Regions from separate parts of the Homo sapiens genome. Here regions 1 and 2 are each linked to region 3. Evidence: fine-mapped expression QTL. A gene starts in region 3. Each other region holds a variant in brackets. All regions are shown on one strand. Distances are between the middles of the regions. Region 1 overlaps DRAXIN (dorsal inhibitory axon guidance protein). Region 2 has its middle 4.9 kb from the start of AGTRAP. Region 3 holds the start of FBXO2 (F-box protein 2).

Region 1 (10,249 bases), 65 kb before region 3:
AGAGTGAGCCCCACGGCAGGGGCCGTGTGCCCACCACCTCAATGTTAGGTTTTGTTGGGTGGGTTGAATATGGCTTGAAATAAGGACCCACCTCCAGCAGCTCAGTGGTAGAAGGGGTTGTGGCTTTAGGATTTACTTTGTGGCTTGGTCACTCCTCAAGGGGCTGTGAAGCTGTCATTTTCCCACAAGCCTTGGCCCTCATGTCATTGCATGCTCAGCCTATTCCCAGCAGGCATGGAAACCACTCTTGGTGTCTCCAGACAAACTACGGAAAGGCAGCCCTGTGGGAACAGCAGGTATTCCTGGGATCCGCGGTGAGACTCCAGCTGGAGGAGTGCAGGAGGGTTCAGGCCACGGGCCCAGCAGCTACTGGTTGCCACCTGGCCTCCTGCTCAGCTCCCCCACTCCACCCAGGGTATCATTTTAGACTCCAGCACCCATTTTATTGCAAAGCCACTTACTCCTCCAGCCCTGCCTCGGTGCCTGGAATCTGCACATGCTGCCAAGGGCTGAGGCCAGAACAGTTTTCCAAACCTCTCTGACCATGGAACCGTACCCTGACCCTTTCTAATAGAGCATCTCATGGTCCCAGTGTTCTATGGAACACACTTTGGGGAAGGAGCTTGAATGGTGACTTAGAAATGATCTCAGAGTATGTGATGGGTCATTGTCAAAGAACCGACATCTAAAATTCTCCTAGAATAACAAATTAGCTAACACTGGAGGTTTATTAGGTGCTAGGCACTGTTCTAAACACCTTATAAGAATTCTGCGTTCACAGGCCAGGCATGCTGGCTCATGCCTGTAATCCCAGCACTTTGGGAGGCTGAGACGGGGGGATCACCTGAGGTCAGGAGTTTGAGACCAGCCTGGCCAACATGGTGAAACCCCATCTCTACTAAAAATACAAACAGTAACCGGGCGTGGTGATGCTTGCCTATAATCCCAGGTACGCGAGAGGCTGAGGCGGGAGAATCACTTGTACCCAGGAGGCAGAGGTCGCAGTGAGCCGAGATCGTGCCACTGCACTCCAGCCTGGGCAACAAGAGTGAAACTCTGTCTCAAAAGAAAAAAAAAAAAAAAGAAGTATGCATTCACTACTCACAACAACCCTATGAAGGGAGAGTTATTATTCCCATTTTACAGATGAAAAAATCAAGGCACAGAGACCTTAAGAAACTTTCCTAAGGTTGCCAAAGCTGTGAGAGGTGGAATAGGTGGATTTAACACCAGCCACACTGCTACAGATGGAAGGGGAGAGCAGAGACTCTCCGCCCCAGCTGCACCTGAAGTTACCTGGGAGAAAAACTATGAAGCCCAGACCAAACAAAACAGAAGCTTTGTGGGTGGGCCCCAGGCCTGTGAATGTTCCTGGATTATTGCAACGTGCAGCCAGCGTTGAGAGTGAGCAGGCTTGAGCAGGGGTTGGCAAACCGTGACCCTCAGGCCAAATCTGCCCCACTGCCTGGTTTTGCGCAGTTGGCAAGCAAAGAGCAGTTTTTGCACTTTTAAATGGTTTTAGAAAATTAAACTAATAATATTTTATGGCCAGGTGCGGTGGCTCACACCTGTAATCCCAGCATTTTGGGAGGCTGAGGCGGGCGGATCACCTGAGGTCAGAAGTTTGAGACCAGCCTGGCCAACATGGTAAAACCTTATCTCTACTAAAAATACAAAAATTAACCAGGTGTGGTGGCACATGCCTGTAGTCACAGCTACTTGGGAGGCTGAGGCAGGAGAATTGCTTGAACCTGGGATGAAGAGGTTGCAGTGAGCTGAGACTGAGCCACTGCATTCCAGCCTGGGCAGCAGAGCAAAACTCCATCTCCAAAAAAAAAAAAAAGGAAAGAGAGAATAATATTTTGTGACATGTGAAAAGTATACAGAATTCACATGTGTGTCCAGAAATAGTTTTCCTGGAGCATAGCCATGAATTCATTTACACACTCTCTGTGGCTGCTTCGAGCTACGGCAGAGCTGAGTAGCTGGTGGAGATCAGATGGCTTGCAAATCCTAAAATGTTTATTTGGCTCCTCACAGTAAAAGTTTGCTAAACCCTGGATTAGAGGAAACTGGCTTCTGTATGAGCAAAATAAATTTAAGATAGACCTAAGGAAGAACTTCCTGGCAGAGAGGTTGGTTAGACACTTGAGAGGGCTTTGGGATTCCCAGCTCTGGAGTTAAGAGGTTCCATCCACCCATCCCTCTTTGGAAATGTCAAATAGAGATAGCTAGGGCAAAGAGACGGGCCTTGAATTTCCAACCATGGAACTACCCTGGCAACCAGTGGCAGTTCTATGGGCATTTTAGCTTTGTCCTGACCCTCTGTGTTCTCCATGGCTGATGTCCTAGGACCATCTAACAGCTGTCCCCCAGCCATAGTAATGCTGGGCTTTCTTCCGGCGGTACTCCTTAGGGTTCTAGCCCCACAGAGCCAGCACAGTCCCGAGTCACCACTTAATGTGAGGCACACACAGCATGTGTGGGTTGTCTGGTCTCAAGTACGAAGCTGCTGGCAGATCTGCCTTTTTACATTTTTAAGTGTTTTATATTTTTGGAGTCTCACTCTGTCGCCCAGGCTGGAGTGCAATGGCGTGATCTTGGCTCACCGCAACCTCCGCCTCCTGGGTTCAAGTGATTCTCCCGCCTGAGCCTCCTGAGTAGCTGGGATTACAGGCACCTGCCACCATGCCTGGCTAATTTTTGTATTTTTAGTAGAGATGGGGTTTCACCATGTTGGTCAGGCTGTTCTCGAACGCCTTACTTCAAGTGATCTGCCTACCTCGGCCTCCCAGAGTGCTGGGATGTCAGACATGAGCCCTCGTGCCCAGCCTTAATTTTTGTATATTTGGTAGAGACCGGGTTTTGCCATGTTGGCCAGGCTGGTCTCAAACTCCTGACCTGAGGTGGTCCGCCCACCTCAGCCTCCCAAAGTGCTGGGATTACAGGCATGAGCCATTGTGTCTAGCCATATCTGCCTTTCAGCTAGCCTGCTTTGATCTCCCAGTTCCCCTGCCCTCCCTGCTCCCTCCCCACAAGGTTCCCATGCCCATCAAACTTGGATAGGGAGAGAACAAGCATATTTAATTTCTTCTAGATCTGCCTGCTTTCCTTGGTGCCTGACCCCTGACCCCGACTGATTTTTCCAACGCAGTAAACATCTCTGGCATCTTATGGGCGTGATCCAGGCCAGTGAGGAATTTGGCCAGGAAAGTCTTTTGTCATTTGCAACCTGGTTCGCCCTGGAACAGAGGGTTGGCCAGGAGTGAGATGCCAAGTGGGGGGATTTAAATGGTTCTCCTGAAGTGACCCCTGAAGCCAGATCTGCTGGGACAGATGTCCTGGGTGGGCATTGTGAGTCTGGCCTGTTAGGGGCAGTTAGCTTCAGATAGCACCTCAATTTCAGGTGAGCCTCAACTTCCCAGTGGGCTCTGCTGCAAAAATGTGGGGTGGGGTTCCAGGGATGGTTTTGTGGTCCTGGAAATCACTAAACAGTATGCAAAGTGGGTAAACATGGGCAATATGTGTGGGGTTTTTTTGGATTCCATGCTTGCATCAGAACCCCTGGGGGGGAAGTGCTCCAGAAAACTGTAAAGTGCCTGTCCAGGACTGGATGATCAGGACCACAGGGACATAAAGGCCAACATGATTCTTTTCCCCAAACACTTCTTATCCCAGGATATCAGCTACTAGACCACAGGGATCAACCTGCCCAACTTATTCCTGCAAGCAAGTATGTGCTTAAGTTGTATTTTGTTTTGTTTTTAAACATGATACACCTTTATCCAGGGAAGGCAGAGAACAGTCAAGTTATTCCAGCCACAGAGGAAGGGAATACCAGGGTGTGAGCCTCTCTTGCCAAAAGCCTTAGAGAATCTGGAAGAAATTCTTGGCTGTGGAGCAGCAAGAACGTGGGCCTTGGAGCTGGACAGCCTTGGCCCAGGTTCATGTCCTTGCTCTGCCATGTACTTCCCAGGACCTCTCAGTGGGTCCCTGGGCCAGCAGCCTCGCGTTCCCTGGGAGCTTGTTAGAGCACAGAGCCCACTGAGTCAGATGTGCTTTTTTTTTTTTTTTTTTTTGAGATGGAGTTTCACTCTTGTCCCCCAGGCTGGAGTGCAGTGGCACGATCTCTGCTCACTGCAACCTCTGCCTCCCAAGTTCAAGCGATTCTGGTGCCTCAGCCTCCGAGTAGCTGGGATTACAGGTGTGCACCACCGCGCCTGGCCTAATTTTTGTATTTTTAATAGAGACGGGGTTTCCCCATGTTGGCCAGGCTGGTCTCGAACTCCTGACCTCAGGTGAGCCACCCGCCTTGGCCTCCCAAAGTGCTGGGATTACAAGCGTGAGCCGCCGCGCCCGGCCAGATGTACATTTTTAACTGGACCTCCAGGTGACTCTTAGCATGTTCAGGTTTGAGGAGCACTGACCTGGGACCCTGGGCAAGTCGAGTCAAATAACTCCAGCGTGCCTCACGGTCCTCAACCTGTCGCATGGTGATAATGCCTACTTGAAAAGGTCGTTGTGATAATTCAATGAGATAATGTATTCCAGCACTTAGCACAGTGCCTGGTACATAGGAGATGTTCCATATTCATCTCCTGATGGTGGACCTTCTTTCGGGAAGTTTAAATTTCTTTTCCACTCTCAAAAACGCCTCTTGGTTTTGAACTTGAAGCTGTTGCAGTGCTGGAGTCGGACAGTAGAGGGCACTCTCGGCATTGCCATCGCGGAGAGCAAGACACGCGGGATGGAGGCTGCGTGGGTCCGGACTTCGTGTGTGCAGGTGCTGCGGGCCGGCTCCTGGGCACCCACCCAGCTCATTCGCCGAGCGGCTCCCCTCCTGGGGTTGAGTGTCCTGGGCCTGAGTCTGCAGCCTCAGCCATCTGTTCCCCAACTTGATCTCCCACTGCTAGTTACAAACAAATCGCCCGGCTTGTGCAAACCTCCTGGGCTCAGTCCCCAGTCCCGCGGGGCCGCTAGACGTTGATGAAGGATCCCTGGTCGCCGTTGGCCGTCTCGGGCTCCACACAGCGCCCTTTCCTCCGTGTAACCCTGCGGTTCCGGTGGAATTTGGCATAGCAGCGCAGCCCTGGGCGAGTGGAGGCAAGGGGGGTCAGAGGCGCGAAGGGCCCGTGCCCTCCCCTTCCTTCCCCTGCACGCTCGGGGCCAGCCAGCTCCCTCCTGCCTTCATTATTCTGCCCTACAACCCAGCTTCCTCACGGCAGCCCCA[A/G]TGAGCTTAAAAGACACGAACCCGGAAGAGGGGAGGAATGAACACGGAAGGAGAACAGAGAAGACTCAGGGCGGTCGGGGCGGTGAACATATTCTGTGTGACACGTAATGGTGGGACATGGCATGCATTTGTCAAAACCCACAGAATGCACCGCACAGTGAACTATAACTTACGTTGACTTCAGTTAGTAATAATAATACATCACTATTGGTTTGTCAAGCAACAAATGTACCAAGAGAGGCCGGGCACGGTGGCTCACGCCTATAATCCCAGCGCTTTGTAAGGCCGAGGCAGGTGGATCACTTGAGGTCAGGAGTTTGAGACCAGCCTGGCCAACATGGTGAAACCCCGTCTCTACTTAAAAAAATACAAAAACTACCCGGGCATGGTGGTGGGTGCCTGTAATCCCCGTTACTTGGGAGGCTGAGGCAGGAGAATCACATGAACCCGGGAGGTGGAGCTTGCAGTGAGCCAAGATCATGCCACTGCACTCCAGCTGGGGCGACAGAGCTAGACTCCCTCTCAGAAAACAAACAAACAAACAAACAAACAAACAAATCTACCACATGATTGCAAGATGTTATTAATAGGAGAAACTGCATGCAGGGGCAAAGCAGGTATATGAGAACCACATTCTGTGAAATTTTTCTAGAAAACTGCTCTAAAAATAAAGTCCACAGGGTACGGTGGCTCACACCCGTAATCCCAGCACTTTGAGAGGCTGAGGTGGGAGGATCGCTTGAGCCCAGTAGTTCCAGACCAGCCTAAGCAACATAGGGAGACCCTATCTCTACAAAAAATGTAAAAATTAGCCAGGCATTGTGGCATACACCTGTAGTCCCAACTATAGGAAGGAGGGGCTAACATGAGAGGATCCTTTGAGCCCAGGAGTTCCAGGCTGCAGTGCGCCTTGGTTGCACCACTGTAGTTCAGCCTGGGTAACAGAGTGAGACTCTGTCTCAAAAAAATTAAAAAATAAAATACACAGATAAATTCAATTAAAAAGTCTATAATCTTGAAAATTGGAAAGGAAAAAGGTTATTAAATTTTTTTTTAAGTGGCTCAAATTCTGCCCTTCCCTGTAAAACATCCTATGGAGAGCCATTGCTTTTTTTTTTTTTTTTTTTGAGATGGAGTTTTGCTCTTGTCACCCAGGCTGGAGTGCAGCGGCACCATCTTGGCTTATGAAACCTCTGCCTCCTGGGTTCAAGTGATTCTCCTGCCTCAGCCTCTCGAGTAGCTGGGATTACAGGCATGCGCCACCACACCCAGCTAATTTTGTATTTTTTTTTTTTTTTTTTAGCAGAGATGGGGTTTCACCATGTTGGCCAGGCTGGTCTTGAACTCCTGGCCTCAAGTGATCTGCCCACCTCCGCCTCCCAAAGTGATGGGATTACAGGCATGAGCCACCGTGCCGGGCCTCCCTTTTTTTTTTTTTTTTTGAGACAGGGTCTTGCTCTGTTGCCTGGACTGGAGTGCAGTGGCATGGCAAGATCTCGGCTCACTGCAATCTCTGCCTCCTGGGCTCAAGTGATCCTCCCCACTTCAGCCTCCCAAGTAGCTGGTACTATGGGTGTGCGCCACCACACCCGGCTAATTTTTTTTTTTTTTTTTGTATTTTTGGTAGAGACAGTGTCTCTCTACCTTGCCAAGGCTGGTCTCCAACTCCGGGCTCAAGGATCCACCTGCCTTGGCCTCCCAAAATGCTGGGATTACAGGCATGAACCACCCCGCCTGGCCTCCAATGCCCACTTCTGTCTACCCTTTCTTTTTTTTTTTTTGAGACGGAGTCTCTCTCTGTTGCCCAGGCTGGAGTGCAGAGGCACGATCTCAGCTCACTGCAACCTCCGCCTCCTGGTTTCAAGAGATTCTCCTGCCTCAGCCTCCTGAGTAGCTGGGATTACAGGTGCGCGTCACCACACCCGGCTAATTTTTGTATTTTTAGTAGAGATGGGATTTCACCATGTTGGTCAGGCTGGTCTCAAACTCCTGACCTCATGATCTGCCCGCCTTGGCCTCCCAAAGTGCTGAGATTACAGGCATGAACCACTCCCCTGGCCTCCAATGCCCACTTCTGTCTACCCTTTCTAAAACAACTGTAGGACTCATTATCATATTATTATCTTTATAGCCCTTATTACTTACTTTTTTTTTCTTTTTGAGACAGAGTCTCACTCAGTCACCCAGGCTGGAGTGCAATGGCAGGATCTCGGCTCACTGCAATCTCTGCCTCCCGGGTTCAAGCGATTCTCATGCCTCAGGCTCCCGAGTAGCTGGAATTACAGGCAAGTGCCACCATGCCCATCTAATTTTTGTATTTTTAGTAGAGACAGGGTTTCACCATGTTGGCCAGGCTGGTCTCACTCCTGACCTCAAGTGATCCTCCTGCCTCGGCCTCCCAAAGTGCTAGGATTACAGGCATGAGCCACCATGCTCGGCCATAGCCCTTATTATTTTCTAAAGACATACTATCTATGTATTTGATTGTTGTCTGCTCATATCACTAGAATGTAATTCATGGGCACAGAACTTGCTGGTTCTTTTCACTACTGAACCCCCCAGTGTCCAGAGCAATGTCTGATACGCAGTAGGTGCTCCCTAAATATTTAACTGATTAGATGAGTGAATAATCAGAACTACATAGCTTTATTGCCGAGGCGGGAGGATCCCTTGAGCCCGGGAGTTAAAGCTACAGAGAGCTGGGATTGCGCCACTGCACTCCAGCCTGGGTGACAGAGTGAAACCCTGTCTCAAAAAATAATTAAATTAAATTTAAAAGTCCACAATTTTAAAAATTGGGAAGAAAAAGATGTATTATCATCATTTTTAAGACAGGGTCTCGCTCCATCATCCAGGCCGGAGTGCAGTGGCACGATCATGGTAGATAACTCTCTGAGGCTAATATGAGCAAAACGGGGCATGTATCTCAGGTCCACAGAGGGGCTGAGCCCCAATTCCCCCATCCAGGAGATGTGTGAATGCTGATTTGATATTGGATGGAACTGATTAATTATCGTTCATGTTTGGCATTTTGTTTTTAAAAGAGTACTTGTCTTTCAGAGGTACACACTAAAATATTCACAGGTGAAATACCTGTAAGCTCCCAGGAGTTGCTTAGAAATCATGTCGGAATAAGGAAAGTGTGTGAGAGATGATAGACACAGATTGGCCGTGAGTTGGTATTGAAGCAGAGTGATGAGAAATGGGCGCTCATTAGACTATTCTAACTACTTTAGTATATATTTGAAACTTTGCAGAATACAAAATTGAAACTGGCTGGGTGTGGTGGCTCATGCCTGTAATCCCAGAACTTTGGGAGGCCAAGACAGGTGGATCGCTTGAGGTCAGGAGTTTGAAACCAGCCTAGGGAACATGGCAAAACTCTGCCTCTACCAGAAATACAAAAATTAGCTGGGCTGGTGGCATGCGCCTGTAGTCAGAGCTACCTGCAGGGCTGGGATGGGAGGATCACCTAAGCCTGGGAAGCAGAGGTTGCAGTGAGCCAAAACTGCACTGCTGCACTCCAGCCTGGGTGACAGAGTAAAACCTGTCAAAACAAAACAAAAACCTGAAACTATTCCCCCCACTTTCCTGGCTGTGTAAGTTTGGGCATCATTAAGCTTTCTGTGCCCCAGTTGGCTTATTTGTACAGTGCGGATCATCATAGCTCCTTTCTAGGGGTGGTCATGGGGATTTCAGTAGAAAAGTGCTCAGCACAGAGCCCAGCACACTTAGGCGAGGTGGGGGCACGGAGGAGTTGAAGAGGCAGCTGGGCAAGTGCATCCTTCCCTGGGACATGCTGGGAAACCCACCCCCACCCCATTATCACACTTCAATGCCTCCTCTGGGATAGAATTCTGGTGTGAAAGCGGCAGCCTTCTGAGGCTGGATCTAATTTAAAGAGATGTGCTCCTGTCTCCTCCCTTCTCCCTCTTCCAGATAGTGGGAGATTGTGCCAGCTTGTATTTCAAAAGTTGAGAAAAGCAAATCTCAGAAATGATGCCAAGAATCAGGACTAAATGAGTTCACAGATTGGGAAGGCACTGATAAAGCTGTTCTTGCTCACGTCTTCGGCTCCCGAGGGATTCTCCCACCTACACCCCCGCCGCAGGCCCATGATCCACCCTCTGCCAGGAAAGCTTGTTCCCCACTCGGTGCAGAAGCCGCTTCGAGAAAGGGAGGCTTTGTGGTTCTCAGAGCATGGGTAGCCCCCCGCAAAGGAGTCTGGACCCACCTTCCACACACATGCAGTCATCGAAGCATTTGTTGTTGAGGCCTCGGTTGTGGGGTGTGCAGAGATGCTCCCGCAGGTCGCAGCAAGTCCCTGCCAACACAGAGAGCACACGCAGTCAGCCAAGCTGAGCCGCCCCTCCCCGCAGCCCTGCACTCGGTCCCACTGGACAAGAGATCCATCATCTCTGTGGCAGGCCGCGCCCTGGCGGGGTGGGCCATCTGGTGTGCAAGGCTCCTGAGTGGAACCACAGGGAGATGTCATGGCCGAGGCCCCCAAGGGTCGGTGGCAGAGACCCCAGCTGCCTCAGATGGGGTACTGATTGACCATGGGAAGAGCGAAGGTGGTGTGAGGTCTCCTCCCAGACAGAGCCAGTAGAACAGCTGGGGGCTGCCAGGTGTGGAGTCAGCTCAGAGCTGGGAGGGGCCTCAGGATCCCCAAAACCAATGTCCTCTTTTGACAGATGGGGAAACTGAAGTCCTGGGCACCTGCCATGGAGCCGGCTCCCAGAGCGACTGTCCAGTCGGCCCAAATGCGGGCCTTTTCTTTGTGCCCAGGGTGAAAACAATGGTTTGGGAATGAAGCAGCCTGTCAGGGAGCTGGTGGTTTGCCTTATACAATGCTAATTGCTGGTTTGGTTGCTGTTTTGTAGAATATTCTGGTCACTGATCTAACAATCGTGGTGCCGTGGAGGTGTGCCGCTCCGATCTCTCTTGGGGAAAGCACTTGCTGGCGGCCTCCAGCTGGTACAGCTTCAGGGCCACCTTGGCCCATGGCAGGCTGTTCCC
Region 2 (9,700 bases), 77 kb before region 3:
CCGCCGCTTGGTTGCTAGGAGACGGCGTCGGCAGCTCGCGCCTTCAGCCAAGCTCCAGACTCCCGCCACCGCCCAGGCAGTACTTGGGGGCCGCTGGCGAAAGTTGGAGTTTCTGTCGCCCAGGGCGTATCCTGCCTGGCTAATATTCCAGGAAGCGGACTGTTCGGACTGCCTGCAGCCAGGACAACTGGGGGACCGTCCAGGCGCAAAGTGCTGATGTGGCAACAGCTTGTGTCTCATCCTTGGGGGCACCCTCTCTCCTTCCCACTTCCCTGTGTAAATGGGCTATTTAGGCTACCTACCTCATATGATCCTTATGAGGATTAAATGAGCTAACTGCTGTTGTTAAAGAAAACGTTATTGGGACTGTTGTTAAACCAGTACTGTTCAAGACTTGCTGTAGGGTTATTGCCATGGAGTGAGAGTTTGGGCTCAACACCGAATACAACAAGGACCAAGGAGGGATTTATAGCCAGAGCAGAATGAGGGAGCAGGAATGGAAGATTCCTAGGAGGAGACATCAAGGATGGGGGAGTTCTTGCTAACTTAGCAGGACTCTTGCTGAAACTGGTTTATTATGCAGGCTCAGGCCCAGCAAGGACAGGAAGACACAGAGGTCCAAGGCCGAGGCCTAGTCAAGATGAGGACTCAGAGGAGTCTAACTACGGTTTGTTCTAGGAGAGAACAGTGCCCGGCACTTAGTAAATGGGCAGGACACACAAGCTATTGTTATTACCAACACAAGATGAGGCTGGGCGCAGTGGCTCACCCCTGTTATCCCAGCACTTTGGGAGGCCAAGGAGGGTGGATCACCTGAACTCAGTAGTTCGAGACCAGCCTGGCCAACATGGTGAAACCCCGTCTCTACTAAAAATACCAAAATTAGCAGGGCATGGTGGTGTGCACCTGCAGTCCCAGCTACTCAGGAGGCTGAGGCACGAGAATTGCTTGAACCGGGGAGGCTGCAGTGAGCCGAGATCACGCCACTACACTCCAGCCTGGACGACAGGGTGAGACCTTGTCTGGGAAAAACAAACAAACAAAAAGCAACACCTGAGGAGCCAAATTGGTGGGAGCCCACTTTAATCAGCATACCAAAAGTTTTAGAAAACTCTAGCTGAAAAACCATAAGAAATTCCTCCCCCAATTGTACATGAGGAAAGAAAGGGCTGTCTCCTGCCTCACCTGGCACCTCCCTTAAAGATTGTTGACCACCACATCCCCCCACCGCAACAAGAACATTAATCCGCTCTACCTCCAGGTCCCTTCCTAACATCAACTTTCCTTTAGAGAACACCAGCTTTTGTTTAGTGTCACCTAGGTATGGAAACCTTCAGGGTACACCTGAGCACTTGGTCTTATTCCTAGGGTGGGGGAAACCAGGTGGGAACCTACAAAACTGCCTGGGTGAGTCCTTAGATAATACCAAGACCCATAGTCTCTCCAGATGCAAAGAAAGGGTTTCTCTGGATGGATGAGGAGAGTTTTGCAGGGCTGCAGGGCCCATAGGCCTAACTTAATGCCCTCTTAGGAGGCACAGATCCCCCCAGTCTAGGGGTAAATTAGAGACCAGCCAAATGGCTACATCCAGTTTGATTTAGGACTGGTTGCTATTATTATTATTAGTTCATTATTGGTAATTAATTATTGTTATTAGTAAAGTACTTAGAAGAGAGTAATTTCTCAGTAAGCAGTCAATATTAGAATATTATGTTATTATTATCTTTTTTTTTTTTGAGATGGAGTCTGGCTCTGTCACCCAGGCTGGAGTGCAGTGGCGCGATCTCAGCTCACTGCAACCTCCGTCTCCCGGGTTTAAGTGATTCTCCTGCCTCAGCCTCCTGAGTGGCTGAGACTACAGGTGGGTGCCAACATGCCCGGCTGATTTTTGTATTTTTAGTAGCGATAGGGTTTTGCCACGTTGGCCAGGCTGGTCTCAAACTCCTGACCTCAGGTGATCTGCCCGCCTCGGCCTCCCAAAGTGCTGGGATTTCAGGCGTGAGCCACAGTGCGCAGCCTGATCAATTTCCTTCTAAAAAATATTTCCCATACACTCCAGATTCTAGAGGGATTTAATCCAAGCCTTTAGGTATATAATAAAGTTGTGATCACTTTGTAAGGAGAAAATGAAAAACAGGCCGGGCACGGTGGCTCAAGCCTGTAATCCTAACACTTTGGGAGGCTGAGGCCGGTGGATCACTTGAGGTCAGGAGTTCGAGATCATTTTGGCCAACATGATGAAACCCCGTCTCTACTAAAAATACAAAAATTAGCCAGGCATGGGGGTGTGCACCTGTGGTCCCAGCTACTTGGGAGGCTGAGGCAGGAGAATTGCTTGAACCTGGGAGGTGGAGGTTGGAGTGAGCCGAGATCCTGCCACTGCACTCTAGCCTGGGCAACAGAGTGAGATTCCATGTCAAAAAAAAAACAAAAAAACCGCAAAACAACTCCTAGGATTAGAGCTGACATTTACTAAACTGACATTTACAGGACCCTGTAGGGGCGGAAGGGTGTGATACCTTTCCTCACCCATCATAAAGGTCACAGCTGACACTCCTGTAAAAAAAGACTGCTTAACAAGAGAAAAGCATACCAAGTTTAGTTAAGCAAAGCTTCATGTGACATGGGAGGCTTCAGAGATGAAGACTCAAAGGCCCTGGGAAATCTGTCCATTTTTGTGCTTAGTTTCAAGGAAGAATGAACAGCCCTGTAGCAATGCAATTGGATAAAAAGAAAATGAACAAGTCTTGTCCAGATTCTTCTTGGGCTCTCCATGCAGCATTCCTTCCTCCTGGGTATGAGGTAGAACCCCTCTGTAATGAGGTCTTTAAAGAGAGAAGGGAGAGAGCCACCTTTCTAGGTTTTATGGCTACTTTGGAGACACGGGTTCTAGTTTCTGTGACCCACCTTGGAGAAGGAGGATTTTTTTTTTTTTTTTTCTTGAGACAAGGTCTTGCTCTGTTACCCAGGCTGGAGTGCAATGGTGTGATCATGGCTCACTGCAGCCTCAACCTCCTGGGCTCAGGTGATCCTCCCACTTCAGCCTCCTGAATAGCTGGGATTAGAAGCACCTACCACCATGACTGGCTAATTTTTGTATTTTTTTTTATAGAGACAGGGCTTGCCATGTTGCCCAGGCCGGTCTCAAACTCCTGGGCTCAAGCGATCCACCTGCCTCGGCCTCCCAAAGTGCTGGGATTACAGACTTGAGTCACCTCATCCCCTGCCAAAGGAGGAATTCTTGTTCTGTGACTGCCTCACGGGAGAAGGAGGGGCTGGAGACAGGAGGTCAGGAGGGCGTCACAGAGACCTTGCTTTTGAGGCCTCCAGTCTTCTGTAGTTCATAGTACTTAGCATGCCAAAGCACCAGATATTGGGGTGACATTTTCTGAGCCCCAACAGTAGTTGTCGTGTGGCAGACAGTGTGAAAGGGCTTCATAGTGGGCCAGGCACGGTGGCTCACATCTATAATCCCAGCACTTTGGGAGGCCAAGGCGGGTGGAACACCCGAGGTCAGGAGTTCGAGAACGGCCTGGCCAACATGGTGAAACCCTGTCTCTATTAAAAATACAAAAATTAGCCGGGCATGATGGCACATGCCTATAATCCCAGCTACTCGGGAGGCTGAGGCATGAGAATCGCTTGAACCCAGGAGGTAGAGATTGCAGTGAGCCGAGATCCTGCCATTGCACTCTAGCCTGAGAGACTGAGAGACGGAGCGAGACCCTGTCTCAAAAAAAAAAAAAAAAAAAAAGAAAGTTCTTCATAGTAAATGCTCACAACAGAACTATGGCACGCGCTGTTCTTATTCCTGTTTACACTTAGGCAACTGAAATCAACAGAAGTGAAGCCGCTTGCTGCAGGCACAGCACTAATTGCTGCTGGAACTGCGGTGGGACCCAGGAAGCCTGGCTCCAGGACCCTGACGTGTAACCACACAGCAGAAAAATCCGGCCAGGGCTGAAATGAGAAGGATAGAGTGAAGCAAGTAGGAGAAGACAAGGATCGGAAGGCAGCACAAGGCTGGGCCTGTGGAACGTCCCTGTGGCTCAGACACTGACACTGTATTCATCTCCACCAGCTGGGGCCAGAGGCGGAGGGAGGAGAGCACGAGAACACCCAGCTGGCTGGGCGGGCTTGGCAGGCTGGTGGGGTTGGGGGGATGCGGGGAGGTGGGAAGCACGGAGAAAC[AAAAG/G]AAAGTGAAACTGTCGGTATCCTCAAAGGAACCGGAGTTCCTGCCACGACCTATTCTTGGCTATGGAAGGACATAATAGACCCCCACGTGGCATTCCACAAGGCTTGGGGTCATGTATTGAGTGAGTACAGACACTCCCCAACTTACAATGGTCTGACATGATTTGTCTACTTTCCAACAGTGCGAAAGCGATCTGCGTTCAGTAGAAACCATATTTCCAGTCCCCAGTATAACCGTTCTGTTTTTCACTTGCAGTATAGTGTTCAATAAATTCCATAGGGTTTTCAGCACTTTATTATGAAATAGGCTTGTTTTTCATGATTTTGCACAACTGTAGGCTAATGTAAGTGTTCTGAGCATGTTTAAAGTAGGCTAGACTAAGCTATGATGTTCAGTAGGTTAGGTGTATTAAATGCATTTTATTTTCTTTTTTTGAGACAGGGCCCTCTAGGTGCTCTGTCACCCAGACTGGAGTACAGTGGTGCAACCTTGGCTCACTGCAGCCTCCAACTCCTGGGCTCAAGTGATCCTCCCATCTCAGCCTCCCAAGTAGCTGGTATTACAGGCTCACACCACCATGCCCAGCTAATTTTGCTTTTTTTTTTTTTCTTGAGATGAACTCTCACACTGTCGCCCGGGCTAGTGTGCAGTGGGGCGATCTTGGCTCGCTGCAGCCTGCACCTGCCGGGTTCAAGCAATTCTCCTGCCTCAACCTCCCAAGTAGCTGGGACTACAGCCATGTGCCACCACACCCGGCTAATTTTTGTATTTTTAGTAGAGACGGGGTTTTACTGTGTTGGCCAGGCTGGTCTCAAACTCCTGACCTCATGATCCACCTGCCTTGGCCTCCCAAGGTGCTGGGATTACAAGCGTGAGCCACCGTGCCCGGCCAGAGGGGACATTTGTTTCTGTGACTACTTAAAACTAATGAGGGCTGACTCTGAACGATTTGTCCCGATGGCACAGAATTCAATCTTACAGCGGCATCCCTTGCTGACACTTATGGACTCCAGCCAGCCTCCATAAATACTCCTTGAGCTTTAAAACACAGGAAATCATGCCTGATGTTCCGGCTGCTCTGCCACCTCATCAGGGTCCTATGAAAATTACTGCCGGTTAAGAATGATCCCCGCCAGGCCTTCCCAGACATGTGGCAATAGTGCCCTGTCCCTCCAGAGACCCTTGTGCTCAGAGAACCCATCAGAATGCCCTATGGAACCTTTGGTGATTGTAGAAAAGGCAGAAAAGGAAATTGCCTGTGCCCTGTTGGAGTCCAGGAAGCTGTGGCTGTGTTAGAAACCACCCAGAACACAAGCGGAAGTAAGAGGCTATTGCCCAAGAGGAAGGAGAGGCACTTCAGCTACTCTCAAATTCTGACCTATGGTATTTCCTTCAACCCCTGCTGCATACAGCAGCAATCCTCTTATTTTATTGTGTGCGTGTGCACGCACATGTGCAGGTGTGTGTGTGTGTGCATGTGTGTAGGTGTGCATGGGCATGTGCATGGGTGTGCATGTGCGGTGGTGTGTGTGTGTGCATGTGTGTAGGTGTGCATGGGCATGTGCATGGGTGTGCATGTGTGTGGGTGTGGGTGTCTGCATGTGCGGGTGCGTGTGTGTGCGTGTGCATGTATGTGTGGGTGCGTGTGTGTGTGTGCATGTGCATGCTCACGTGCTTTCCTCAACTCTGAGCATCTTGTTCAGAGATCAACTCCAGCCCCTGGCCCAGGCCCTGCACGGAGCGAGTTTCAATGTGTGCTGCTTGCCTCCCGCCTCCCATGGCCTGTCCTGGTTGTGTCATAACTTCAGGCTGCTTCCTCCTCCTCTCTTCGTTCTCCCATTTTTCCACGTGGATGCTGCTGGAATTCCAAGGGAGGCGTTGGAGGGCTCTGGCTGAATCTGAGTGATGGCTCAGATACACACATGAGGCCTGTTGTGGTCACTGAGCCCGACGGCCCGAGACGCCTATCTGCCATGGGGTTTATCTTTGGTGTTTGCTTTCACTGCTTTCAGGCCTCACTGGCGGTGGCTTTCACGTCTGACTCTGCTGCAGGCTCTTCGAGGTCTCATCTTCCTTGCAGGGGGCCAGTGGCCACAGGGAGAGAGAAGAGAAGAACGAGGAAGTGGGTGGGGGAGGGGAGGGTGCTTCCACTGGCTCTCTGGAAGGAATCCAGCCCTCTTCCTCTCTGGGAAGCCGGCCTGAAGGTGAATCCAACTTCGGTCCTGGCAGCCCCCTGCCTGACAGCGGCCTCGATGGGTCCTAAATGAGTGGCACAGTGCCTGTGAGGTGGGAGTAGGGGTGAGATCAGTGATCAGCTCCTAGTAGGTGCTCAGTAAACTTCAGGTATTTGAGAGGCAACACGGGGTCATGGACATGATCAGGTTTTGGAGTCAGGCAGACCTGGGGGAGGCCTCTCCAGCACCACTTTGGGCAAGTGGCCTTAATTCCTTTGTGCTTCCATTTTCATGCTTGGCAAAAGAAGGTCTAACAGTTCCCAGTTACGCAAGAGGAGGGGCGCCTCACGCCGTCAATGGAGGCCAGGGCTGTGTCTGGAGGAAGGTGTTCCCTCTGTACACAGGTATTCTGCTCTGTGCCAGGCGCTGACACAGGTCAAGGTCGGGATGCACAGTGCCAGTTCAAGACCACAGCATATAGCGCCGTCCAATTGTGCCCTTGCCGCAGTGCCTAATCGCCAGCAGGGACAGAGCCCAGGCTCCTGACTGTGGTTCCCCAGTGCAAACGTGTGAGTTTCAGGATATGCCATCGTGTGTTGGGGGAGGTGTGATGAAGGGACAGGGGCAGCTCTGTTTTGTCATTTGCTGACCCAGTCAGGCATCCATTCATATCGCTCCTCACCCGATCCCTCCCCACCCCATCCCACCCCAAATTGCAATTTCATGTCCTAACACTGGGTAGACACTGGTCTGGGCCCACCACAGCATGTGTGTCCATGTTCATGACCAGGGTTGGCCACCGCTACACTGAGGCTCAAGCTGCCAAACAGAGTGAGGAAGCCCAGAGCTTCATGACCCGCCACGGTCAACTCTGTCGCACGTCCAGTCACCGGGATCTGAGCTGGGGAGCTGAGCTCCAGAAAGCTCCATGATGGTCAATTTCGTGTGTCAGCTTGGGCAAGTTCTAGTATCCAAGGTTTCAGTCAAAAAAGAATGTAGGTGTGTGTGAGGGCATCTGCAGTCAGTTGGCTTGAAGGAAAGGAGGGTACCCCTGAGAATGTGGTGGGCCTCATCCTATCAGTTGAAGGCCTTAAGAACAAAAACTGAGGTCTTGGGAGAAGAAATTCAGCCTCAAGACTGCAGCATTAACTCCTGCCTGAGTTTCTGGCTTGCCTGCCTGTCCTACTAATTACAGACTTGCCAGCCCCTACAATCATGGGAGCCAATTCCATAAAATAAATCTCTTTATATACAGTCATGCATTGCTTAACAGCAGGAATACATTCTGAGAAATGTGTCATTAGACAATTTCATTGATGGGCAAACATCATAGCATTACACACTGCAAACATCATAGTGTGTACTCACACAAACCTAGATGGTGAAGCCTCCCACACACCTAGGCTCTCTGAGATAGCCTGTTGCTCCTGGGCCACAGACTTGCACAGTATGTTACTGTACTGAATACTGCAGACAACTGTGACACAATGATGAGTATTTGTGTATCTAAACATATCTAGACATAGAAAAGGTACAGTAAAAGTATGGTATTAGAATCTTATGGCATGGTGGCTCATTACAGGCATGGTGGCTCATGCCTGTAATCCCAGCACTTTGGGAGACTGAGGCAGAGGATCACTGAGGCCAGGAGTTTGAGACCAGCCTGGGCAACATAGCGAGACCCCGTCTCTACAAAAAATACAATAATTAACCAGGCTAATTACTGTATTTATAATACAATAATTATTATTGCATTAATAATACAAAACTTCGGAGGCCGAGGCAGGAGGATCATTTGAGCCCAGGAGTTTGAGGCTGCAATGAACCATGATTGTGCCACTAGACATAGTGTCATGACTGTGCGCAACCTAGACGTAAAGCCAGATTCTGTCTCAAAAACAAAACAAAACAATCTTATGAGACCACTGTTGTATGTGTGGTCTGTCATTGACTGAAATGTTTATATGGTACATGACTGTGTGTATACACACACACACACACACACACATGAGATATATAAATACATAGATATTTTAAGATATATAAATAATATCCAATTGTTTCTGTTTCTCTGGAGAACCCTGACTGATCCACCCCAGTGCAGCCATCTGCCCTCCACCAAGGGCTGCACCCAGGCTGCTGGCACTGAGAGCTGACATCCTGTGGCCTTGGGCTTGACTGCCCTAACCCCTTATCTCAGCACTGTTCTGACCTTTATTAGTAGAAATGGGATCCAGTGGACATCCCAGGACAGAGGGGTTTGGCTTTTAGATGGCCAGCATGCCTTTCTGTAACCTTTGACCCAGGGGTCAGTAGTACAGACTGGGGTCAGCAAGCTACAGCTCCTGGACCAAATCTGGCCCGCTACCCTTTTGTGTAAATAAAGTTTTATTGGAACGCTGCTGTGCTCACTCATTTGCATGCATCTGTTTCTGTGTGATCCATGGCTGCTTTCATACGACGATGGCAGAGTTGAGTAGTGGGCAGAGAGGGTATGACTTGCAAAGTCTCTTGGAGGGGTACAGGCCTTCTGGGCTCAGCTCCTCAGAACCATCCCCCGTGGGAGCTCCTCCAGCCACCTGGGGCTGTGTGGGGAGGACTGTGAGTTCTCAGAAGATTTGGTGCAGCAGCTCTCAGACTTGAGTTTCAGTTGTGCAGATTCCCAAGCCCATGCCTGGAATTCTGAGTCAGAGGCCCAGGTGGGGCTCAGAAACCTGGGCTTGCCGTCCACAGGATTCTGATGCTGGGGGTCCGAGGACCCATGTTTTAGGAAACCCTGGATTTGGGAAGCCTGATTTTCCCTGTCCTGGCTAGGCAGAGACGTCTCTGCAGATACGGACACCAGGCTCTCAGGGCGCCCCATCTCTGTGGTCACCACGGCCCCCAGGGGTGTCTGGGCCCCACCTTGGCTTTAGGATCAAGGTCACTGGGAGACATAACAGCCTGCCCGAGGAAGCCCTGGTCAGCAGAGCTGGGCGGCACTGGCTGGAACTGCCACCACGATAAGAGATGTCCTTCCTGGTGCCAAGCCAGGCCACCCCCTCACCAGTTCATGCCCTTTCCCAAGATGGCAACTGACCCTGCCCCAGCCCTGGCTTCTGTTGAGCTGCCTTGTCCTTTCTTATCTTGCAGGAGTCCCGCTTCTGCTCTTCTCTGCACTCGGCCACCTTGGCTCGGAAGGAAGCTGCTGGGGACCGGCCTGCTGCAACCCACCTCAGAATCTCTTTCGGACCTCAGCTGCCCCAACCCTAAAATGGGTAGGGAGATAAAAATCTGGGACTCCGGCCAGGTGCGGTGGCTCATGCCTGTAATCCCAGCACTTTGGGAGGCC
Region 3 (8,000 bases):
CTTCCTCCCCACTCCTCTGCCTGCATCTTGGCGGCTGCCCTCAAGCCCTGTGCTGTGGGACGCTGCAGATCACAGTGCCCACCGCGTATTAGGTGCTTCCTGTGTTGCAGGCACAGGGAGGTGACTTCCCTGGGGGCCCTGAGACACATGGTGATGGAAATGACCAGACCTCTTCTGTGATGGAGAACGCTCTGATGTGGGCCAGACAGACCTGGGTCTAGTCCCAGCTCTACCAGTACTCGGTTGTCTGACCTTGGACCAGTTGCTTTTCCTCTCTGACCCTTGGTCGTCTCCTCTGTAAACTGGAGTAAGAATAGGGGCTGAGAAGCATTTTTGGCAAAGTGCCAAAATGTTTTAGGACTTGTGGCCCACATACTATCTCTATTGTATAGTTTTTTTGTTGTTGTTTCTTTTCCTATAACCCCTTAAAAACACAAATCTTTTTTTTTGTTTTTGTTTTTTGAGATAGGGTTTCGCTCGTCACCCAGGCTGGAGTGCAATGGCTCGATCTCAGCTCACTGTAACCTCTGCCTCCTGGGTTCCAGTGATTCTCCTGCTTCAGCCTCCCGAGTAGCTGGGATTACAGGTGCATGCCACCACACCTGGTTAATGTTTGTATTTTTTTGTAGAGATGGTGTTTCGCCATGTTGGCCAAGCTGGTCTCGATCTCCTGACCTCAGATGATCCACCCACCTTGGCCTCCCAAAGTGCTGGGATTACAGGTGTGAGCCACTGCACCCAGCCCAGCTGCCTTCTGTGATGGACAAAGCTCTGATGTGGGCCAGACAGACCTGGGTCTAGTCCCAGCTCTACCAGTACTCAGCTGTGTGACCTCAGGCCAGTTGCTTTTCCTCTCTGAGCCTCAGTTGTCTCCTCTGTAAACTGGAGTTAAGAATAGGGGCTGGGAAGCTTTTTTGGCAAAGTGCGAAAATATTGTAGGAATTGTGGGCCATAAACTATCTCTATTGTATAGTTTTTTGTTGTTTCTTCTTCTTCTTTTTATAACACTTTAAAAATGTAAAAACAATTATTAGAACAATTATTAATGCCTCAGCCAGATTTGGCTCATGCACAGCTTGGAGGAGTGGTTTTATTATCATTTTGCTCCAGAATTTGGTCATGTTGTGGAAAATGAGGTTCCCATGCCATCCCAGTGTCAACCCAACAACACAGCAAGCAAGGATCAGTGGAAGCCTTGCTTTACCTGTTGTTGTAACATACTGAGAAGACGACTGGATCTCCCATTCTTCCACAAGCAAAACCCCTTTGGCCTTCTGGGACCATGTCAGTAGGCCCAACCCTGGAGCCTAGAAACTAGGCCAACAAAATATGGCTCTGACTTCCTGGCCTTGTGTCTTGAGCAGAATTAGTCTCAGTTGGCCAACATTCCCTCGCCTAGGAAAGGTCACTGGGGAAATAATCTTAAGAGCAGAATAAGAGGCCGGGCGCGGTGGCTCATGCGTGTAATCCCAGCACTTTGGGAGGCCAAGGCGGGCAGATCACCTGAGGCCAGGAGTTTGAGACCAGCCTGGCCAACATGGTGAAACTGTGTCTCTATTAAAAATACAAAAAATTAGCTGGGCGTGGTGGCGGGCACCGGTAATCCCAGCTACTCGGGAGGCTGAGGCAGGAGAATCGCTTGAACCCAGGAGGTGGAGGTTGCAGTGAGCCGAGATCGCACCATTGCACTCCAGCTTGGGCAACAGAGCGAGACTCCATCTAAAAAAAAAAAAAAAATTAGCCAGGTGTGGTGGCACATGCCTGTAATCCCAGCTACTTGGGAGGCTGAACTTGGGAGGTGGAGGTTACAGTGAGCCAAGATTGTGTCACTGTACTCCAGCCTGGGTGACAGAGTGAAACTCCGTCTCAAAAAAAAAAAAAAAAAAAAAAGAGTATAGTAAGAATAAGAAACACCACTCTTGGCCTCAGTTTGCCCATCTGAAAAATGTGTGCACTAACAGTAGCTACCTCTTTGGGTTACTGTGAGAGAAGTAAAGGTGTTAAACCATCCAAAGTACCCGGCTCATACTAAGTGCTCAATACATGTTCCTGGTGTCATGACTGTGTACTGGAGGCATGCCAGACCCGGCCTGTACCCCACCTTCAGCGCACGGGTTGTGCAGGAGGTTCCTGTGCAGGCTCCGTAAGAAGTAGAAGATCTTCCAGTCGGCCACGGGCTGGTCCCAGTCCTCAGTGATGAAGCCCTCTCGCAGGCACTTGCGTTTCCAGAGGGTCACGAGGTCGATGAGGTCCCGCCAGAGGCTGCAGACCAGGCGGCAGTTCAGCAGCAGCTGGCGGGCGGGCACGTGCGTGAACAGCTCCAGCAGGATGTTCTCGGGCAGCTCGTTGATGTTCCCCACAGCCATGGCTTGTGGCTTCTGGACACCCTCCTGTAGCTGTTGAAAAGCTATGCTGCAGGCCTCATCCCTGCTCTGCCATTTATCTCGGGAGAGCATGGTGCCTCTCCCAGCCTGTTTCCTTCTCTGTAAATGGATGCCTTACCTCCAGGGGTCACTGGGGCGGTCCAAGGAGCTTGGGACACATCAGGTACTTTAATAAAAGGTGAGCTCTGATTTTTTTCTCTGGCCTCTCACAATAGAGGTGGAAGGCACTGCCCAAGGTCAAAAATAAGGGCAGAGGGGGAAGAAGCCCGGATCTTCTTTGATTCCAGGGCCAGCCTTTTTCAGTAGGCCAGTCTTTAATGGGGATATAATGCGCAGCCGGGCAGAGCACCCCAGGCCTCCGGTGCCGTCACCATCCTCTCTCCCATCCTCAGAACATGATGGGAGGAGGAGGCTAATTATCACTGCCTCCCGCGGAGGTCCAAAGGGCTCCAGCCACCTTCTCAAGATCTCAGAGGACATGATCTCCTGCCTAGGTGGGAGTGGCAAGAGGGTGGGCGACAGGGAAGGGCCCTTCCTATCTCCCCACCCCCACTCCCACCCCCAGCCCCGCGGCTGGGCTCCGCCAGCCCCAAGTCCGCCAGCGCGCCTGCAGCCTCCCCTTCCCACGCTGTGCCTTAAAATGCCCCCCAAAGTCTGGGCTCGGACCCCTGTACATCGATGGCGACCCCAGCCCCCGTTCGCAGCCGCGCAGCGCAGCCCGGGCAAGCTCGGCGGCCTGGGCCTGGTCGGTGCCAGGCCTCCCTCGGCAACTGCGGCGCGACCCGGAACCCAGGAGCCTTCCCGGCAGCCCCCGCCCAGCCGCGCCCCCTCCCCAGCGCCCCCCGCGCCCCCTCCTGCCGGTCACCTGCGCTCGGCCGCCGCGGCACGATCCGTTGGGCCGCCCAAGCTGCACCGCCTGGACCTGCGCTTGCCTGGAAAGCGAGGCCCCGCCCCGGCCCGCCAGGCCCCGCCCCCGCGCCCCGCGCCCCGCCCCGCGCAGCGCTGGGCCAGGGACGCACCCCCACCGCGTCGTAGGAAAATTACCTGGTGTGGGGGGTGGGGCGGAAGGCACCTCCTATACTCCGACTCCGCCTGGGCCACCCGCCCCTCACCCTCGGCCTGACCCAGCCTCTCCGTGCCTCCCCTAGCCGCCTCCTCCCAGCAGTCCCCCAGGAGCGAGCTGCGAGATGCCCCAAATCGGACCCCTCCCCAGTTGGAAAAAAAACGACTCCTGACCTTTCCCAGCCTCCTCGGTCCGCTGAGGAACCCGCAGCCCCGGGCCTCGAGCAGACTGCTGGGACTGCGGGGCGGCCGGGCGCGGGGCCAGAGGCGGGGCGGGGCGGGTCGGGTCGGGGGCCTTTAAGAGGCGCGGTCGCCGGGACCGACACAGACGCGGACAGCGCCGGGACTCGCCGCCCCGGGACTCGCGCAGCCCGCAGCGCTCCGGCTCCTCCTCTCGCGACCGCCCTCCGCAGCGATGGACGGAGACGGTGACCCAGGTAGCCGACGCCTGGACCGCTCGCTGCGGCGGGGAGGGGAGATGGGGTCGGCGGGCGAGCGCTGCACAGAGGGGCGTCAGAGAGCGAGGGGACCCGGAGACCTGGCGCGGCAAACTTTCACGCCAGCGAAGCCCTAGAGGCGGTCTCCAAAGAGCACGTCTCTCTGCTATCTTGGTCTGGCGGGAGGCCTTGAGAGGCGACTGGCAAGGAGAGAGAACTCCTGGGTCCCATTTAGCCAGGAAGTAGCACCAGAGGACCCCCACATTCCCGCCTCCCAGCTTCCTGAGGGTCTGTCTGGCGGGGGCCTGGGATGCGTCTGGGAGGGAGGCTGCGAGCCTTTTCTTTCATCAGCTCTTCCAGCTCTGGGCCTTGGGCCGTCTGAATCCCCGTGGGTTCCTTGGGGTCCCAGGCCTGGCCTCACCTATTCCTGCCTTCCTCCTGAGCTCCCTTGTCTGGAGGGGCTGCCCCTCCCCGGGGTGGTGAGATGCCCAGTGGGGACCCGACTAGCGGTGAGGGAGCGTTGGGGGCAGCTTTGGCTGGTGCTCAGGGCCTTCCCAGGCTGCCCAGTCATCCTCTCTGGCACCCAAGACCCCTCACCCCCATCCCTCCAACTCCCTGCGGGGCCTGCAGGGGTTGCCTGCTGAGTCAGGATGGAAACAAGACCTGCCTGCAGACAGCCCTCACTCTTTCCTCATCAGGTCCAGCTGGGGATGGGCATTGCTTGGGTTAGGCGGTGGCAAACAGACTGATGAAAGCTCAGGCCCCCCCTCACCCCCCATTCCCCCGCCTCCAGCCCTGAAAATTCCAGCTCTCGCAGCCCTTGCTCCCAATCCACGGCCTTCTGGCCACACCCTCTGTAGGGCTCCAGAACTGGCTCCTGCTTTTTCCCAGGGATCAGCTATACCCTGGACTCTGGGGCCCACTCCAGGTGAGTGAGTCAGCCTCGCAGGCAGGCAGCTTCCAGGGGCCAGATAACTTTCCGCCGGCAACAATGTGGGGAGTTGTGTGTGTAAGAGAGAGGGTGGGGGGAGCTGTAATTGGATCTGGGGCCTCGAGTGCCAGGCCCCGGGGCCAGAAGAGGGGACTGGGTGAGGTGCACCTTTCGGGGAGCATCAGGTGTCCGATGGGGCCAGGGCCGGAGGGAGGGCTGGAGAGGTGAGGACACTGGGCCTAGCTCCCCAGAGAGCTGTGGGCATCTGCCTGGGCAGGTGATGTGACTTCAGGGCCTGGCATTTTCCTCTGTCTTCCTGCCGTTCTGCGATGTGGTCTGGGAGAAGCTGTTAAGCCTTTTTTGGCCTCAGTTTCCTCTTTGCCAAAGGGGCCGGTGTAAATCCCCACATCATAAAGATGTGGCCAAAAAAATGTTAATAAGGAAGGAGAAGTGCTGTGTTCAATGAGGTTCACTCAGTAAGATTGACTGAGGACTCACTGTGTGCTCTGGGCTCTGTGAAAGCTCTCAAGGGCCTGACTGTGGGTTGGGCAGGGAGGAGAGGCTGCATATGAGGAGGTTAGGGGCTGGTGGGCCTGGAGACTTGGGTCTGGGTCCTGCCACCTGTCCCCTTCCCCAGTGCCTGGCCTGTTCCCACCACCGCCTTGGCTCTCCAGGGCCTAGCCCATGGGAACTCCCCATCCGTAGGTCTGAGAGCTGTAGTCTTCCTGATCACCCAGAGTGGCCCCGTCTCCTCCTCACTGGCTCTCCCTCGTCCAGGCATCTTGGGCACTCGGTGTCCACTTACTCAAGGCTGTGATGGCCCAGCTGAAGCCGACTGGGATGCAAGAGACAGTCCGGCTGCCGCGGTGACATCTGCCTGCCTCCTTACAATTCAGAATGCCCTTGTCCCCTTCCTCAGGGGATTTGGACGTCTGTCCTGTTTGTATGGCCTGGCACAATGATTACCCCCATTTTATAGATGAGAAAACTGAGGGCCACGGATGGGAAAAGGAGGTGGAGAAAGTTTCCTTCCCCAAGCCCCTATGTCATCTCCTTGCTTGATAGAGTTTCTTTTAATAAGTCCCTCCTCATCCCCAAGTCACACAATAGCTGGGGACAGCTGGGTCTCCAGGCTCTGTTCTCCAGCCCCTGAAGGCCCCAGGTCCCATGTCCCCTTCCCTAAATACTGGCAGTGTGTCCTTCAACAAGTCACTTCATCCCTGAGCCTGAGCATTTGCACCTGCAAAGTCAAAATCCTGGCCTGGGTGTAGTGGAGCATGACTGTAATCCCAGAACTTTAGGAGGCCGAGGCAGGAAGATTGCTTGAGTCCAGGAGTTGGAGGTCAGCCTGAGCAACAGAGTGAGACCCTATCTTTAAAAAGAAAAGTCAGCCGGGCGTGGTGGCTGACGCCTTTAATCCCAGCACTTTGGGAGGCTGAGGCGGGTGGATCACCTGAGGTCAGGAGTTTGAGACCAGCCATGCCAACATGGTGAAACCAGTCTCTACTAAAAATACAAAAATTAGCCAGGCGTGGTGGCACATGCCTGTCATCCCAGTACTTGGGAGGCTGAGGCAGAAGAATCGCTTCTCAGCTTCCAGCTACCCGGGAGGCAGAGGTTGCAGTGAGCTGAGATTGAGCAGTGACAGAGCAAGCGAGACTCCATATCAAAAAAAAAAAAAAAGTCAAAATCCTAACACTGCCTACTAATTCAGTGAATTATTCTGTGGAGGCTGTGGTGGTTTAAGATGGCTCTGGAGCCAGGCTGTCTGGGTTCAAATCCAGGCTCCAACCACTGATTAGCCGTGTGATCCTGGGCCGTTTCACCTCTCTGTGCCTCAGTTTCCTCATCAATGCAATAAGAACAGCAATAAGAGCAACCTCAAAGAAGTGGTATGAGGATTTAAAGAGTAAATGAAGTTGAAATGCTTTGGACGGTGCCTAACACTTGATGAGTGCCCCCAAAACATGAGTTCCTGACAACAGACCAGGAAAGTGCCAGATGCCAGGCACAGGGCATGAAGCTGTGTGTTTTCCAGACCATGTTCTGGCCCTTATAAGGCTCCGTATGGTCCAGAGACAGGCGTTTATCACAGGATCACACCCCAGGACAAAAGCTAGGAAGGGCTGTGAGAGGGTGTCATAGGGGGAAGTCCCGGAAGGCTTCCTGAGGAGGTGAGGGGAGCAGGAATCTCAGAGGGTGGTTGGGAGGAAGAAAGAAGTTCCTGTGTGAAGCACTGTGCAGTGCTATAGATGGATGCCATTAATAATAATAATATGATCCTTGTTGCCATCTGCCCAGGCGTGGGGTTTACTGGTCCAGCAGAGGAAATAGGCCTCTGAGGCACCTCTTTGGACTTAGGGGCTGATCCGGGGTTGGTCTGTGGCCTTGTGGCCCTCCTCCTTGGGCACCAGTATGGAGTCACAGAATCTCCGGCCCCAGCTGTGGATTGTCCCACGGTGGGTGGGGGAGGTTACGGGCACATTGCAGTCCTGGGGCCTGGAGGAGTACAGGGTGGAGGAATCACAGCCTCCCACCCATCCCTGCCTGCAGAGAGCGTGGGCCAGCCCGAGGAGGCAAGCCCGGAGGAGCAGCCAGAGGAGGCGAGTGCTGAGGAGGAGCGGCCGGAGGACCAGCAGGAGGAGGAGGCGGCGGCCGCCGCCGCGTACCTGGACGAGCTGCCCGAGCCGCTGCTGCTGCGCGTGCTGGCCGCACTGCCGGCCGCCGAGCTGGTGCAGGCCTGCCGCCTGGTGTGCCTGCGCTGGAAGGAGCTGGTGGACGGCGCCCCGCTGTGGCTGCTCAAGTGCCAGCAGGAGGGGCTGGTGCCCGAGGGCGGCGTGGAGGAGGAGCGCGACCACTGGCAGCAGTTCTACTTCCTGAGCAAGCGGCGCCGCAACCTTCTGCGTAACCCGTGTGGGGAAGGTGAGAGGCCCTCGCTGGGCGAGCTCAGCTTCCCCTGCTGCGAAATGGGCCGAAACGGCGCCGCCTGGCTTTGAGGGAGAAATGGGATTAAGCGCCTGGCTCAGTGCCAGCACTGGGTAGCCCCAAGGCTGTCTATTACTGTAGCTCTCTGGCCACCTGTGCCCTGGGGTCTCCCGGGTCCTCCCACCCTCAGCCAGCTGGGGCAGGGCGGGATGGGGGACATACCTCCCGGGAGGCAGATTTAGAAACTGCCCACTGGTCCAC

What was found.
Region 1: its variant is fine-mapped to the expression of FBXO2 in blood mononuclear cells (TOPMed, PIP above 0.99). The same link has a PIP of 0.9 or more in NK cells and whole blood.
Region 2: its variant is fine-mapped to the expression of FBXO2 in aorta (GTEx, PIP 0.98).

Annotation. Positions count from the first base shown.
Region 1 is chr1:11,714,424-11,724,672 of GRCh38, reverse strand. DRAXIN (dorsal inhibitory axon guidance protein) reads right to left here. Exons shown (of 7, transcript NM_198545.4): 6 at 9,465-9,554; 7 at 1-5,089. The coding sequence ends at 4,977. Among named protein-coding and RNA genes, the nearest start is that of AGTRAP, 17 kb to the left of the region's middle. RefSeq lists an enhancer at 4,860-4,929. The variant A/G (reference allele first, on the strand shown) is at 5,231.
Region 2 is chr1:11,726,346-11,736,045 of GRCh38, reverse strand. No RefSeq gene overlaps it. Among named protein-coding and RNA genes, the nearest start is that of AGTRAP, 4.9 kb to the left of the region's middle. RefSeq lists enhancers at 3,865-3,954, 8,847-9,700. The variant AAAAG/G (reference allele first, on the strand shown) is at 4,192.
Region 3 is chr1:11,650,202-11,658,201 of GRCh38, reverse strand. FBXO2 (F-box protein 2) reads left to right here and starts at 3,773. Exons shown (of 6, transcript NM_012168.6): 1 at 3,773-3,883; 2 at 7,368-7,736. The coding sequence starts at 3,862. FBXO44 (F-box protein 44) reads right to left here and starts at 3,325. Exons shown (of 6, transcript NM_033182.7): 1 at 3,250-3,325; 2 at 2,102-2,396. The coding sequence starts at 2,366. RefSeq lists enhancers at 1-225, 7,054-7,761, 7,762-8,000 and silencers at 3,094-3,163, 3,214-3,443, 3,684-3,823.